3 separate regions of the Homo sapiens genome follow, and all the other regions are linked to region 1. The links come from fine-mapping of genetic effects on gene expression. A gene starts in region 1. Each other region holds a variant in brackets. All regions are shown on one strand. Distances are from middle to middle.

Region 1 (5,175 bases):
TCATAGGCAGACAATGAGAAGTTTCAGAAAACATTCATTAATATGCATATGTATACACTTTGTATGCTTACGTAGAAAATGAGTGGTTTTAAAAGGACATTCATTAGCATACTTTTATATGCATTTTGTAGACTTGTACAGTCAGAAATGCAGCAAATGTAAAACTTTAAATCTAGAAGTCTGTTTCCCTCTAGGAACATATATTTCAATTCCTTAACTATTTATTGACTGATAGCGTTTGAGCCACAAGGCAAGGCATTTGCAATATTTAGGTTTTGGAACCCAGCTCTGCCACTCACTAGCTGGGAAATCTACAAGTCACCTTAGTTGTCTGAATGACACTTCTCTCAACAATAAAATGGCCAGCAATGCTTACTTACTTCACAGAGCAGTAAGGTTAAATTAACCTAGCACATGCTTGATACAGACTAGGTGTGAAATTTCACTTTGATTCCTTTGGCTTTAAAGAATGCATAAATTAGTGTGGGTGGAGGCGGGAGAAGGGGGGGAATGCCAAGTCCCCCGTTTTGTTGTGCTGGGTAGACACAATATACCTCTTCCCCTTTAAGTGAAATAAGTCTTCAAATCCAATTAGGATCTACTCTGGAGTCTTAGAGGACCGTTATCTTGGTTTCCACATTATATGCACTGTACTGTTGTTGAAGCTGTGGGTATGTATTGGGTGCGTCGCTGTCGATGAATGCTTTAAAACAGCTGTGAATTAACTGTCACTTCTTTTTTTTTTTTTTTTGGCAAACTCACAAAATCCCAGAAGTCAGGGGTCTGTTGTTTGTTCATTCTGCCTCCTTCTGAGTCATTCAGGTACAGGGTGTGTCTGCCAATTGAAACTGCACAGCGGAGGAAGTTTTTGAGTTCACATCTGCCGGGATGGGAACGCAGTGCGACCAGGGACTGGGTGGAAACTTTTACAACAGTAATGCAAGGGCAGAAGCGTCCTGTCCTGAGCTTGTCACGCAGGCAGATCTGACCAAGTCCGCCTCTCAGCCTCACGTTCTTAAGTAGCATCTAAGCAAAAGAAAAGGGTGGGCAAAGTGCTAGTAATGAGATTTGAGGCCTCTGAGTCGACTCCCAAGCAGAATGTGAGAGAAGGGTGCCGGCTCCTGCTGGGCAGCTGCAGTTGCTCCGCAGCTCCTGGCCGAGAATCTCCCCCTTTGGAAATTCCTGAGCTGCCCAGGCGTTTTGAATCTCTCAGGACTCAGCAGCAGCCCACCCCCTCAACGACCTCTCCATTGGCCAGAATCTGGGACACACAGCCTGACTTTGTGCTCAGCTGAGGGAAACCCCTCGCCCAACACCAAAACCGGCGCTGGTTCATTTCTCTGTGCACTCTGGGAAAGCCACTGCCCCTCAGACCGCAGTTGCGAGTAGCACGAGGATCTGGGGTGGCGGGGGGAGTACAGGAACCTCCCGGTTCATTCTCCCTCCCGGGCTGCTTGTCTCCTCCGTACCTCTCGCAGCCCCTTCCCAGCCTCTCCTCCCCAGAGCGCCGCCGACACTCGCCGGGCCGCGGCTCAGGTTTTCTGCTGCTCGCGCGAAAGTGGCTCGGGGAGCTCCTGGCCACAAGCTCAGCACACCGATCCTCCTAGGGCTGCGGGGGGTGTGGGACCAGGGCGGTGCGCTACGAGACTCCGGGCCGTCCTCTGCCTCCTCAGACTTTTCGAGAGAAAAGTTTTCAAAGTCTCTCCACCTTTTTTTTTTTTCAGGGGCTCGGGAGAATCCTCTCCACAGCCAGGGATCAGCGTCTATCTGGGCGAGGGCAGTGATTTATACAGTAGAATCCAGGGGTTACCGGGCTCCGCCCCTTCTCTCTCTCTCTTTTTTTCTTTCATTTGTTGTTTGGGGAGGAGGGGTTCTTTTTTTTTTTTTTTTTTTTTTTTTTGCTTCTGCCCCAGATCTTTCCTGGACAGTGCGTCTCAGCAGTTCAGATCCGGGGGCCCCCAGCTGACAGAGGGCGTGGGGGGTTAAGGCATTAACCCCTCCCAGCCTCTTCCTGAAGAAACCACCCAGCCTTGGCGCGGCGCTGGGTGACTTCGCGTAGCAGGCAGGGAACTGGCCGCGGCGAGCGGGACTGGCCATTGGAGTGCTCCGCTGCGGAGGGAGGGGACCCCGACTCGAGTAAGTTTGCGAGAGCACTACGCAGTCAGTCGGGGGCAGCAGCAAGATGCGAAGCGAGCCGTACAGATCCCGGGCTCTCCGAACGCAACTTCGCCCTGCTTGAGCGAGGTAGGGGGCGGCGAATGGCGGGGGTCGCGGGCGCGGGGAGCCCGGTTGTGGTAGGGCTTAGGTGTCAGAAACGAATTTTTAAGTCGAACGAGGCAAACAAAAACTTAGAAAACATGCATCTCCGGGCGCTGAAAATTTGCATCTCTGGGCTACTAAGGAGCCCATCTCGATCAGATTGTTCTTGGGCACTTGTGATTTATGGAGTTCAGAAAAAAGGTTAATTCCCAACTGTGGAACCTACGGGTGTAGGGGCAGTGAAAATTGCAGTTGGTCGGAGGAATAGGAGGGAAGGCGTTAAATTTTGGAAATCCTATAGACAAAGAATATGGTGGGTGGTGTGGAGCGTGGGTAATGGCTTAAATTAGTACTGCCCAGGAGCAGGGTATAAAATTAGTTGGGGGAAAATGCGGAGCTTCTTGGCTTGAGCAGCCTCTGCTGTTCGCGGAGTTGCTGGGATTGTTCTCATCTCTATTACCTCATTTTATTGCATTGCTGCATTACCTTGAAATATTTAAGCAACTTAGAAGTAGACTTCTGCTGACCAGTGCCGTCTTAGAAAGTTTCTTTGTAACTTTCTAGTCCTAGGAGAGGAGTCAACGTGTTGGGGGACTGCAGTAAATAAAACTGCCCACGCAAATTTAGCAATGCACCAGGGAGCAGTTTAATGTGAGTTTCTGAAGAGTAGTTTTGCAATCGAAATTAGAAATGTGGTAGCATGTATTATGGCTGTCATGAGTAGTTTGATTTCTCTCTTTTGTGTATGTTTTGGCTAAACTAAACAAAGCAAAAAATATTTATGCAATCAACTAATGTACGAAACTTCTGGGATTTGCTGCAATCTGTTATGAATGGTTTTAACTGAATACCTTTAAATTTACTTGCCCTGGCTTGGGGTGGGGGGTGGGGTGGGGGGGCGCGGGGGGAGGCGGGGAGAATAAGAAGAAGAAAGAAAAGGCAGTCGCTTCACGGAGGCGCTAAGCTTTCCTGTTTACAGCAAGGCGGGGCGGGCCTGGCTGCCCACACCTCACTGCGCCCTCGGACCCTAAGCACACCTGCTCCTAGAGAGTTATTAATAGAGCCCCCAAATGGCTTACGCTTTCAAATGATTTTCCTGCAAATCTGATTTCTTGCATGGCACATGGCAATTAGGAGGTGGTGCTAGTATCTTTGAACTGGGGGGCTGGGGGTGGGCATGGGGGACAGAGGTGTGTGTCTTCGCCCTCAGACTGGCAGTTGAGTCTTTTCCGAGGAGAGACGTGGGCTGGTATTGAGCGTGCAGCTAAGCTGGTGACTGCTTCAGAGAATCTCATGGCTGGAAATCCGGGGGTGAGGGGGTGTGGGGTGGTGAGAGGGCAGGAGTGGAGTTAAAATGGGGTGTAGTTCTCTAGGTTTCCCATTCCTCCCACTCCTTGTTTTCCTTTTCATCATCTTTTTTTTTTTGTCAACCCACAGCCAACATCGTAATTCCCATTTCCCTTTGAGTGAATGTGGCCATAGAGTTTCTCCCTCTCTTTTTCTTCCCCCTCTTCCTTTTTTGAAAAAAGAAAAAAAAGGAAGAAAAAAGATAATTTGATTTTTAAAAAAAATCTCTCTCCCTGAGCTCTCCCCAAGTTTCTTTAAAACAAATCAACAACAACACAATTGGAGCAGTGCCTTAGCTAGAATGAATTATGCCAGTATGCTGTGGCTCTTTCCCTGACTCTCTCCTCTGACTTGTTTAAGGCTGCGGTTTCCGAGGCCCTCTCCAGCCAAGGAAAAGCTACACAAAAAGCCTGGATCACTCATCGAACCACCCCTGAAGCCAGTGAAGGCTCTCTCGCCTCGCCCTCTAGCGTTCGTCTGGAGTAGCGCCACCCCGGCTTCCTGGGGACACAGGGTTGGCACCATGGGGCCCACCAGCGTCCCGCTGGTCAAGGCCCACCGCAGCTCGGTCTCTGACTACGTCAACTATGATATCATCGTCCGGCATTACAACTACACGGGAAAGCTGAATATCAGCGCGGACAAGGAGAACAGCATTAAACTGACCTCGGTGGTGTTCATTCTCATCTGCTGCTTTATCATCCTGGAGAACATCTTTGTCTTGCTGACCATTTGGAAAACCAAGAAATTCCACCGACCCATGTACTATTTTATTGGCAATCTGGCCCTCTCAGACCTGTTGGCAGGAGTAGCCTACACAGCTAACCTGCTCTTGTCTGGGGCCACCACCTACAAGCTCACTCCCGCCCAGTGGTTTCTGCGGGAAGGGAGTATGTTTGTGGCCCTGTCAGCCTCCGTGTTCAGTCTCCTCGCCATCGCCATTGAGCGCTATATCACAATGCTGAAAATGAAACTCCACAACGGGAGCAATAACTTCCGCCTCTTCCTGCTAATCAGCGCCTGCTGGGTCATCTCCCTCATCCTGGGTGGCCTGCCTATCATGGGCTGGAACTGCATCAGTGCGCTGTCCAGCTGCTCCACCGTGCTGCCGCTCTACCACAAGCACTATATCCTCTTCTGCACCACGGTCTTCACTCTGCTTCTGCTCTCCATCGTCATTCTGTACTGCAGAATCTACTCCTTGGTCAGGACTCGGAGCCGCCGCCTGACGTTCCGCAAGAACATTTCCAAGGCCAGCCGCAGCTCTGAGAAGTCGCTGGCGCTGCTCAAGACCGTAATTATCGTCCTGAGCGTCTTCATCGCCTGCTGGGCACCGCTCTTCATCCTGCTCCTGCTGGATGTGGGCTGCAAGGTGAAGACCTGTGACATCCTCTTCAGAGCGGAGTACTTCCTGGTGTTAGCTGTGCTCAACTCCGGCACCAACCCCATCATTTACACTCTGACCAACAAGGAGATGCGTCGGGCCTTCATCCGGATCATGTCCTGCTGCAAGTGCCCGAGCGGAGACTCTGCTGGCAAATTCAAGCGACCCATCATCGCCGGCATGGA
Region 2 (5,250 bases), 42 kb after region 1:
ACCTCTGAGACAGCAAGGCCAACCCCTCATCTTCGTCTCCTCCTCAGCCTACTTATGAAGACAATGAGGGATGAAGACCTTTATGATGGTTGACTTCTACTTAATGAATAGAATAGTAAATATATTTATCTTCATTATGACTTTCTTAATAACATTTTCTTTTCTTTATTTCTTTATTGTAAGAATACATATATAATCCATATAACATACAAAATATCTTTTTCTTTTTTCTAGTGGTGGTGATATACATGGATTTTTGACTGTGCAGAGGGTCGGCGTCCCTAGATCCTGAGTTGTTCAAGGGTCAATTGTACATAATAATTTAACTTTTGCAAAACAAAGATAAAAGAATGCCACATATGTGTATGCACATAAATCTTATGTCTGCCTATTTAGAATTCTGTGGTCGGAAACATATGGCGTTCCTGACATAAATTACCTTAAGGAGGAGCAGTTGCTGATGTAGTGGAGCGGGAGAAAGAGGAAGAAAGAGAAAGAACAATGCAGAAAGGCTTCACTGAAAGAAAAGCATGCTTTTGATATTACATTTCTGTACGTCTGCAAAACAAATTTATGTTGTTATGTTTGTAAAGACATCTATTAATTATGTTTATTAATGTATTTTGTAAGCATGTTTATTACTAGATACCAAGCAGTATTCTACGTGGTTTCAAATAGCAATTAATTTAATCATTCCAACAGCCCTCTGAGGCAGGTTTGGTTAGTGTCTGTATTTCCAAGATAAGGAAACTGAGGCACAGAAGAGGTTGTCACAGTTACAGAGTTGGTAAGCAGCAAGTCAGGGATTTGAGTGCAGGCATTATCGGTCCAGAGTCTATCTTCTTAACTACTGCATTATGCCCCTTCTCTTTTTAATAAAAAGTAAACCAGCCATCTCCACTCTCCACTGCTTTACTCTATCCCGTAGCTTGCCATTGCACTTGGAAGCCAGTTCTAACTCCTCTGGTGGACTTTAAGGCCCCGTGACATCCAGCCTCTGCCAAGCTCTCTAGACACCCAGCCTCACTGACCTCTGTCTCTTCTTTGATTTGCCTGTTCTGCATCTTGTTCCCTTGCCTTTTTCTCAGGTCACCTTATAACTGGCTCTGTCACATCCTTCAGATCTCAGTGTAATGTCCCTTCCTTGAGGGGGCTTCCCTAACCACCTATCTAAGTAAGTCTCCTTACACCTCTCCTTTCTTTCTCTTTTTTTCTTTTTCTTTTGAGACGGAGTCTTGCTCTGTCACCCAGGCTGGAGTGCAGTGGCACGATCTCGGCTCACTGCAACCTCCACCTCCTGGGCTTAAGTGATCCTTGAGCCTTAGCCGCCTGAGTAGCAGGGATGACAGGCATGCAACGCCACGCCCAGCTATTTTTTTATTTTTTGTAGAGACAGGGTTTCGCTATGTTGCTTAGGCTGGTCTCAAACTCTTGAACTCAAGTGACCTGCCCACCTCAGCCTCCCAAAGTGTTGGGATTACAGGCATGAGCCACCACACCCGGCCTCCCCTATACCTATCATAACAAACTCTTCGTCTTCTTCATACTACTGAATGCAGCCTGTACTTATTTGTGTTATTTGCTTACTGTGTATCTATCTCCTCTGTGCAGTATAAGCCCCAGGGGGCAGGGTCTTTTTAAGTCTTGGCCTCCATTGTATCCCCAGCACTTGCCACAGGGCTTGGTTAATAGCGGGTACAGAAGAAATTTTTTTAAAATAAATAAATACATGAATGAAAGGCAATACTGAAAGGTGAGGAAGGGTTTGGTTCTGAAATCAGACAGACCAGAGTTTGACTCAATCCTCTAAGATTGGCAGACTTGTGAAACCTCTTGAAACATGTATTGTCATCTGTGAAAGGGAGATAATAATAGTATGTACCCCATAGAGTTGTTGCGAGGATTAAATGAGATAAATTATCTACCATGCACATCGTAACCCCTAATGCATCATAGCTGCTATTATTACAGCCATCAGTATCATCATGCTGAGGCTGCTTCACAGGCCATTGTCCAGCCCGTGGGGTGACAGAGCTTGGATCAGATCCTATCACTTTTCCAATCAGCTTAGGCTTGGCAGGTAGGATTTGGGGAATAACTTCTAGCTAAGCCTGTGTGTGGAGCAGGCACATGATTGTCATGCCCGTAATAGTGTTGAAAACCAGGAACATTTTCTAGAGAGCCACTTTCTCCTCCTCCCTTGTTTTTCCTAGCCTTCTTTCAGTTCCCTTCCCTTTCTTGGTATTGCTTTTAATACAGCCTGAATTAAGCCAGTCCTCTGCTTAGCTCCCTTTCTGCCATTGGAAAGCATCTTTGGGAGTGTAAGGGATTCTGTTCCTTCAGTTGATAGAGCATGCTTCACAGAGACAGGTATTTGAGGTTGTGTTAAGTTAGGTTAACCAGACTTTGAAGGAAACACACAGTAGCTTAATCATAGCACAGAGATGATAACCTCATGGTTTTCTCTTCTTCCTGGGTCTCAGGAAGCGA[C/A]GGCTACTCCACCCTTCCCAGTGGTTGCTGGCAGAAAACATTGATGTCGATTAGTATATAGGGTATATACAGAGAGTGATGGAAAAGAAAATGCAAATAGGAGCTAAGATATTTTCACAGTGGAAAACAATTGGAAACTGGAAAATAAGAGAGGATGGCCTCAGGAGGTCTTGAATGCCTTATGTTTATTCAAGGTGAGGGGCAGAAGCTATTGGTTCTCTCGAGATTAGCCAGAGAAGACTTCCTGGAAAAGTACCGAATTATCCAGTTGGCCATGGGTGCCAACTCCTAAAGACTTCCTGCCTCCTGCTTTTTTGAACTTATTTTGTAGTTGTCTGAGCATATTGTCTTGTATATGTGATGCTGTCCTCTTTTCCAGGAATGACTTTTCTATTCTGTATTCCCTTAACTGCCTTAGGAACTCCTGTAACTTTTCTGCGACTAGCCTCAGTACCTAGCACAGTGCCTGACACATTATAGTCATTTCCTAAATGTTTGCTGAATGAATGATGGATATCCAGAAAGAAAAAAAAGTTAAATGTTGGGTGCATACAAATCTCTGGAATTAACTATCCCGAAAGATGTGGGTGTGTTGGCTCACACCTGTAATCCCAGTGCTTTAGGAAGCTGTGGTGGGAGGATTGCTTGAGGCCAGGACTTCCAGACCAGCTTGGGCAACAGCTAGACCTTGTCTTTACAAACTATAAAACAATTAGCTGGGCTTGGTGGCATGCACCTGTAATCCCAGATACTCGGGGGGCTGAAAGAGGAAGGATTATTTGAGCCCAAGAGTTTGAGGCTGCAATGAACTATGATTGTGCTACTGCACTCTAGCCTGTGCAACAGAGAAGACTCTATCTCTTAAAAAAATTATCCCAGAAGATTATATAAGTTAACTAAGGAAATATGTCAAAAGAAAGGCTAGACATAGTCTTGGGGGATAGTGGCATCCTGGGTGACAGAGGAGAGCTTGAGTTGGCAGGGGTTTGAGGGGATAGGAAACTGGAGGTTGTGTCCTGCACAGAGAGTCTGGTAGAGGGAAAGTAAACAAGCTCTGATATCCAGAACTCCTTTTACTAGCTTAAGCTAAGTAAAGGTTAAGCTTAGGTTAAGCTGTACTCATCATTCAGTGGTGGCTGAAAGTGGCACCTGAAGAAGCTCTTGGGCTTGCCTCAGAGGGACATCTTTAAAAGGAGCACCAATTGTTATCTTTTCTGAGATGGTTTCAGTGAAGTCAAGGTTGAATGGAAGGACGTATACTGACCACTAAATCTCTTACAACTCTTTGTTTTTATCTGATGGTAGGATTTAAAATTTACATGTACTGAATATTCATATATGCAGTCAGTCTTAGATTATCCCAGGGCAGAGTGCATATATTGATTGGGTTAGTGGCCCATCACAATCATTTTTGATTTCAAGCTCTTGCTAAGATAATTACAGACTCTGTAATTAATCCCTTTGTTGAAATTATTACTGTCAGTGATTATTCTGACATGGAGTTAATGCAAGGATGCTTTTCTCTTGCAAAGCAGTGTTTCCCTTCTCCTTTCCACTGATTGGCATTTCAAGAAGAAAGAAGGCAAGCAACACCTTTATGTATTAGTCTGAAGAGACTGCTGTTTAGGAGAAGCACATGGCACAGTGGAAAGGAGACAGACTAGGTGTCTGTCATTCATTTAACAGTTATTGAGCTCAATAACTCAATAACTGTTAAATAATATTAGCAATAATAACTATTGAGTTCAATAACTCAATAAGTGTAATAAGTACAGGCTAGGTGCCTTAGGTTCAAATCCTAGCTCAGTCATTTACTAGCTATGTGACCTAGGGTGACTGACCATCCCAGTTTGCCCAGGACTGTCCTGGTTTTAGCACTGAAAGTCCTGCAGTCTGGGAACTCCCTCAATCCTGGACAAACTGGGACAGTTGATCGCCCCAGTTAGTCACTTGCACTTATCTATAAAATACGGAAATTTCTTATTTTTTGTATCGTGAGTTTGGTGTGAGGGTCAAATGAGATAATGTGAAAGAATTTTGTAAATTATAAACTGCTATATAGACATAAAATACATTCCGCTTGTCTTGTTTTCTTGTCTCAGGTACATGTAGCAAAAAGCTTGGCTATAGAACTGAATTTGACACTAGGGCTAAGGCAGGCACTGAGGGATGGGGGACCCCTGGACTCCTCAGGCTCTGGGAAAGTTTCCATCTGACTGCAAAGTTTGGGGCCTGAGGGGACAGCATATTGCATCAGAATCCAGCAGGCAAATTGTAAAGAGATCCATACAAGCTGGCAGTGGGCTTCTGGTATGTTCTCAAAGCACAGTTGTCTGCAAGTAGGCACCAGGGCAATAGCCATAGGCCTGACAGCTTAGGAATCTCTTTGGGAGGGGATTGGCAAGAGCAGCCCAGGTGTTCTAGCAGAGGGACCTGGAGTATTGGGACAATACCTATAACAGCATGAACAGGACCAAAACAGGCACCAAGGCAGAGCCCTGTTACCAGACCAAGACCCAAGGCTGAGGATGGATCCTTAGTCAAGATGACTCAAAGCTGGGCCCCAGAATGTGAGGCTGAGGATGGAGGTAGGAAGAAGTGTCTGTGAGAGGAAGATGGGGTAAGAAAAGTAGATTTTACAACTCGGCTGCAGACAGACCTTAGCTGCACGGTTTTACTATCTTTTTACAGTTTGATATTCCAGAAGAGCTGATTACACACTCCCAACTCTGTGTTTGTATCACTTTTTAAAAACTGTCT
Region 3 (5,250 bases), 59 kb before region 1:
GTACACACATACATGCAGATAAATACATTTTTATGAAAAAATTAAGAATTATTATGAATGTTCAAGTATACAATAATATGCAAAGGGAAAACCTTAATAATTAAAGTAGGAAATGAGACTAACTCTGAGAAGAGTAATCAAAGACATTGTATTTTTTTTTCAGTAAGATCAAGTAAGTCATTCCAAACTGTCTGGCGTCCTGTCCCAAAACATCTCTGAACTTCTCAGTTCAAGAAGTAAGTTCCAGAATTTATTTGGCAAAGGTAGCTTATGTTCACAGTACTGTCTCTGGTTTTCCAGTCTGTCTCCTAGTCATAGGCCCCTAAAGTCCACCAGCCCTTACACTTCCGGCTGCATGCTTGCAAAATCTACTATGTAGTTCTGATTTTGTAATTTTCATTTCAATGAGCATGAAAACTTTTAATACTGAACGTCCAGAAAAGATCTTGTTTTCTTTTATTCCCTTTCCTTTAGGTCATTTTCTTGTAGTTTTCTTCTTTCATTCAATTTTGATAAGACTTCTTTCTTTGAAAATGACATTTAAAAATAAGGTTAACACACAAGTTATTACTTTAATAAAGCACATAACGTATACCTTATAAAATATTTTGAATGCTTTAGAAACTTGTCTTTGCTGCACACAGGCAGAATGGAGTAATATTTTAAGATTTCCTGCAACTAGAAAGGTATGGAAAGTCTTACTGATTTATATTGTGTTCTGACTTCCTGAGGCAGTTTTCCTAATGCTATTCCATTTTAGTCATACCATGAAACAGAGCTTGCTCATTTATTGTGTTTTTTTTTTTTTAATCAGAATTCAGTGTAGAACTTTGTATTTCAGTTTTGTTTGTTGTTTCTTTAGCTTAATTTCTATGGAATTTTATAGTAATAGCAGTTTTATTTTATAAAAGTTCTCTTGCTGGGAGGATAATTCTGTAAGCATTTGAGAAAAGGAATTCCCAGTTCAATTTTCAAAATTATTTTCAAAAATAAATAACCTGACTATTTAACATATATAGTGTTCCAGACTTGCATTTATTGCCTGTACTATGTAATTAAAGATTTTATTATCTATAGTTACTTGGGAAGACACATCTTTTACATCAGTGTTTGTTTCTCAGGACAGGAAACATTTATTACGGTTCTTTTGTATTCCTAAAGTACCATAGTTCTTTTTTTTTTTTTTTTTTGGGGGGGAGAGAGTCTTGCTCTGTCACCCAGGCTGGAGTGCAGTGGCACGTTCTTGGCTTACTGCAGCCTCCACCTCCTGGGTTCAAGTGATTCTCCTGCCTCTGCCTCCTGAGTAGCAGGGACGACAGGCATGTGACACCACACCCGGCTAATTTTTGTATTTTGGTAGAGATGGGTTTTCACCATGTTGGCCAGGCTGGTCCTGAACTCCTGACCTCAGGTGATCTGCCTGCCTTGGCCTCCCAAAGTGCTGGGATTACAGGCGTGAGCCACCACGTCCAGCCTTAAAGCTCATACCATAGTTCTAGACAAATAATATGTAGATGCTCACTTGATAAAAGGGTGTTTATGTTGTATTCTTTCCATTTAATTCTTGTAATTTGAGTCTTACTTGCCTTCCTTAACCATACACCATAGAAACATTATAGAATTTCTTTTATTTTTTTTTCCATCAACTTTTATTTTATGTCCCAGGGTACATATGCAGGATATGCAGGTTTGTTACATAGGTAAATGTGTGTCATGTTTGTTGGCTGCACAGATCAACCCATCCCCTAGGTATTAAGTCTGTCACCCATTAGCTATTCTTCCCTGATGCTCTCCCCCAACCTTTACCCCAACACAGGCCCCTGCGTGTATTGTTCCCCCGCACCATATATCCATGTGTTCCCATCCTTCAGCTCCCACTTATAAGTGAGAACATGCGATGTTTGGTTTTCTGTTCCTGCATTAGTTTGCTGAGAATAACAGCTTCCAGCTCCATCCATGTCCCTGCAAACAACATGATCTTGTTGCTTTTTATGGCTGCATAGTATTATGGACTTTTTTATGATGTAGCTTAGTCTTAATAACATTACTGGTTATTTGTGCATAAGATCTTTCTGATTTAAATCTTTCCCCTAAATATTAAAACAGAAATGGGAAAATTTAATCTTTCTGAAAAGATCTCCTCTTTTTGTCATGTGGTTTTTAATGGCTTTTTATTAATACAGTCTCGAGCAGGGGTCTCCAACCCCCAGGCCACAGATGGGTACCAGTCAGTGCCTGTTAGGAACC[A/G]TGCAGCACAGTGGGAGGTGAGTGGTGGGAGAGACAGCATTATTGCCTGAGCTCTGCCTCCTGTCAGATCAGGGGCGACATTAGATTTTCATAGCAGCAGGAACTCTATTGTGAACTGCGCATGCGAGAGATCTAGTTTGTGCTCTCCTTATGAGAATCTAATGCCTGATCATCTGAGGTGGAACGGTTTCATCCTGAAACCATTCCCCCAACCCACTCTGTGGAAAAATTGTCTTCTACAAAACCAGTCCCTGGTGCCAAAAAGGTTGGGCATTGCCATTATATATAATAGCTGAAGCGTATATACCAGGACATTTTTTTAAGTTCAAAATATAATTAGAGGCATCTCATTAAGATTTGTTTGTTTGTTTGTGACGGAGTCTCCCTCTGTCGCCAGGCTGGAATGCAGTGGTGCGATCTCAGCTCACTGCAACCTCCGCTTCTCGGGTTCAAGTGATTCTCCTGCTTCAGCCTCCCGAGTGGCTGGGACTACAGGCATGTGCCACCATGCCCAGCTAATTTTTTGTAGTTTTAGTACAGATGGGGTTTCACCACGTTGGCCAGGATGGCCTCGATCTCCTGACCTCGTGATCCTCCTGCCTCGGCCTCCCAAAGTGCTGGGATTACAGGCGTGAGCCACCACTCCTGGCCTAAGGTTTTTTTTTTTGGATTTTTTTTTTTTTAGATGGCCTCACTCTGTTCCCCTAGGCTGGAGTGCCATGGAAAGATCCTAATCTTTTCAAGGCTCACTGCAGCCTTGACCTCTTGGGGTCAAGTGATCCTCCCTGAGTAGCTAGGACCACAGGTGCATCACCTGTCTCAGCCTCCTGAGTAGCTCCTCAGCCTCCTGAGTAGCTAGGACCACAGGTGCATCACCACACCCAGCTAATGTTTTTTATTATTTTGGTACAGACAGGCTCTCCCTATGTTGCCCAGGCCGGCCTCAAACTCCTGGACTCTAGTGATCCTCCTGCCAAGTGCTTTGGGAGCACTTGGCCTCCAAAGTGCTGGTATTATATGTATGAATCACTGTGCCCAGCCCTCATTAAGATTTAAGAGAAGACTTTTACTCCCTGCATGCAATGGCTTATACTCACAAATCTCAGCAAATATCAGTTCTTCAAATGACATGACACTGACAAGAAATGGAAAGAACCGTTAAGAATAATAAAAAAGAGAAAGCTAACTTACAGTGACATAGAAAGAAATGAGACATTTCCAGAGAAGTAGTCAGTTCTTGTGATTATTAATTTTCTTCCTTCTAAACTGACTAATAAATAGCATTTTCAGTTACTTGCACCTTTGAAGCTTTCTGTAGCAGCATTGTTTCCATCACTGTGACATAAGTCTCCTGAGTACAACTCTTAAAATTAACCCTTTTGAGGTTGCCAGTGGTTTCAGTTTCTTTATATTCTTCTGCCTGTCACGCAGAAAAGTAAATCATTTTCTCTAAATTTGTCATCTTTTCTACTCTGTTATAGACCCGTCTTCATATTTTAATTTCCCTTAACTTTTGCAGTCTGAACAAATGAAGAAATCACATTTGTATCTTATTTTAAGTCCTCATCAAAAATTCAATTCCTTTTGGAGTTTTTCAAAAGCTTTCAATAGTGGAGGAGTTATAAGGAGAAGCGAGGTCAGATGGTTGACAGGAAGTGGGTAAAGTGTTTCATTGAGGAAGAGTGTGGGGTTAAAGAACACACAATAAAAGGAGACAAAGGAAGAAGTAGGGCCCCGTGGAAACAAGAGTCATAAAGACATAGAAGTGGAGTGCCAAATGTCTATATTTCTTCACAAAGATGACAAGATTTGAAAATACACGTCAGTGACAGTGGCTGGCAATCAACTACCACGATAGACCATAATGAAAGCCGGGTGGACAAGTATTCATTTCTTTGAAATGAATACTTTGAAATGAATAACTTTGAAAGGCTCAGATAAGGTCTCTGGTGTAAAGGAAAATACTCTACAAAAATTGATGCTTAAATGTACATGGGAGGAGCTTCTGACAATGTTCTATTTCTTGACTTTGTTAATGATCAATTATGCATTTTGGGATGATTCATTGAGTAATACACTAATTTGGGGCACTTTTCTGTGTGAGTGTTATATTTCAATTAAAAATGAAAGAGTAGCAAATAATAAATATTTGGCTTCCAACTTATTCAATTTTGTACTGTGTTCTTTGAGACCATTAGATTACCTAAACCAGTCATTATTTGTGTCTTTCTGAAGAGATCTGGTGATTTTCTTCTAATTCAAATCAACTCAACAAACATTTATCGAGTGGCCAAATGTGCAAGATACAAAAGGTGAAAAACTGCTCAAGAAGCTTACAGTCTAATGGGGAAATATAATGCAACGGGGTTAGAACAACAGCCTGGGCATGTAAATGGTGTCATAGTAAAAATGGGAATTCAGGAGTAGCATGGAAGAAGTAAGAGAAGGTTTTGTTCAGGAGGTGACTTTTGAGCCAATTAGCCAGTTCATACTGAAGTAGAAATTTCCTAATGTAGGAAAAGGCATTTCATACATAGGCGAAAGCATCACCCCACTATTTGTAAGTTACACGTAGATCAGTATTGCCAAGTTGTACACTTCTAGGTGGTATGAGTGGAGAGTTCAGAAGCAGACCTTATTTAAAACATTAGAAAGCCAAGTGCAGTGGCTCACACCTGTAATCCCAGCACTTTGGGAGGATCACTTGAGCCCAGGAGTTTGAAACTAGCCTGGGCAACAAAGTGAGACCCTGCCTCTACAAAAAAATTAAAAAACTAGCCAGGCGTAGTGGTTCACACCTGTTGTCCTGCTACTTGGGAGGCTAGGGCAGGAGGATTGCTTGAACCCAGAAGGTCGAGACTGCAGTGAGCCATGATCACATCACTGCCCTCCAGCCTCAGTGACAGAGCGAGACCCTGTCTCAAAAAAATATATAACAAATAAAATAAATAAGTATATAAAGAAATCATTAGAAGATCAGGCTGGGTGCGGTGGCTCACGCCT

Which allele goes with the higher level. Positions count from the first base shown, and alleles are read on the strand shown. Sizes are in standard deviations (SD) of each study's normalised expression. Not every link is listed here.
With allele A in place of G in region 3, the expression in fibroblasts of the gene that starts at base 2,164 in region 1 is higher (moderate effect, 0.72 SD a copy in GTEx).

The links.
Region 2: its variant is fine-mapped to the expression of S1PR1 in whole blood (TOPMed, PIP above 0.99). The same link has a PIP of 0.9 or more in blood mononuclear cells.
Region 3: its variant is fine-mapped to the expression of S1PR1 in fibroblasts (GTEx, PIP 0.91).

What each region holds. Positions count from the first base shown.
Region 1 is chr1:101,234,856-101,240,030 of GRCh38, forward strand. It overlaps S1PR1 (sphingosine-1-phosphate receptor 1), which reads left to right and starts at 2,164. Exons shown (of 2, transcript NM_001400.5): 1 at 2,164-2,244; 2 at 3,967-5,175. The coding sequence starts at 4,130. S1PR1-DT (S1PR1 divergent transcript) reads right to left here and starts at 1,673. Exons shown (of 2, transcript NR_104626.1): 1 at 1,470-1,673; 2 at 18-1,026. RefSeq lists enhancers at 1,254-1,343, 3,977-4,026.
Region 2 is chr1:101,276,587-101,281,836 of GRCh38, forward strand. No RefSeq gene overlaps it. Among named protein-coding and RNA genes, the nearest start is that of S1PR1, 42 kb to the left of the region's middle. The variant C/A (reference allele first, on the strand shown) is at 2,491.
Region 3 is chr1:101,175,365-101,180,614 of GRCh38, forward strand. LOC101928334 (a long non-coding RNA gene) reads left to right here. Exons shown (of 4, transcript XR_426738.4): 4 at 164-1,191. Among named protein-coding and RNA genes, the nearest start is that of S1PR1-DT, 59 kb to the right of the region's middle. The variant A/G (reference allele first, on the strand shown) is at 2,248.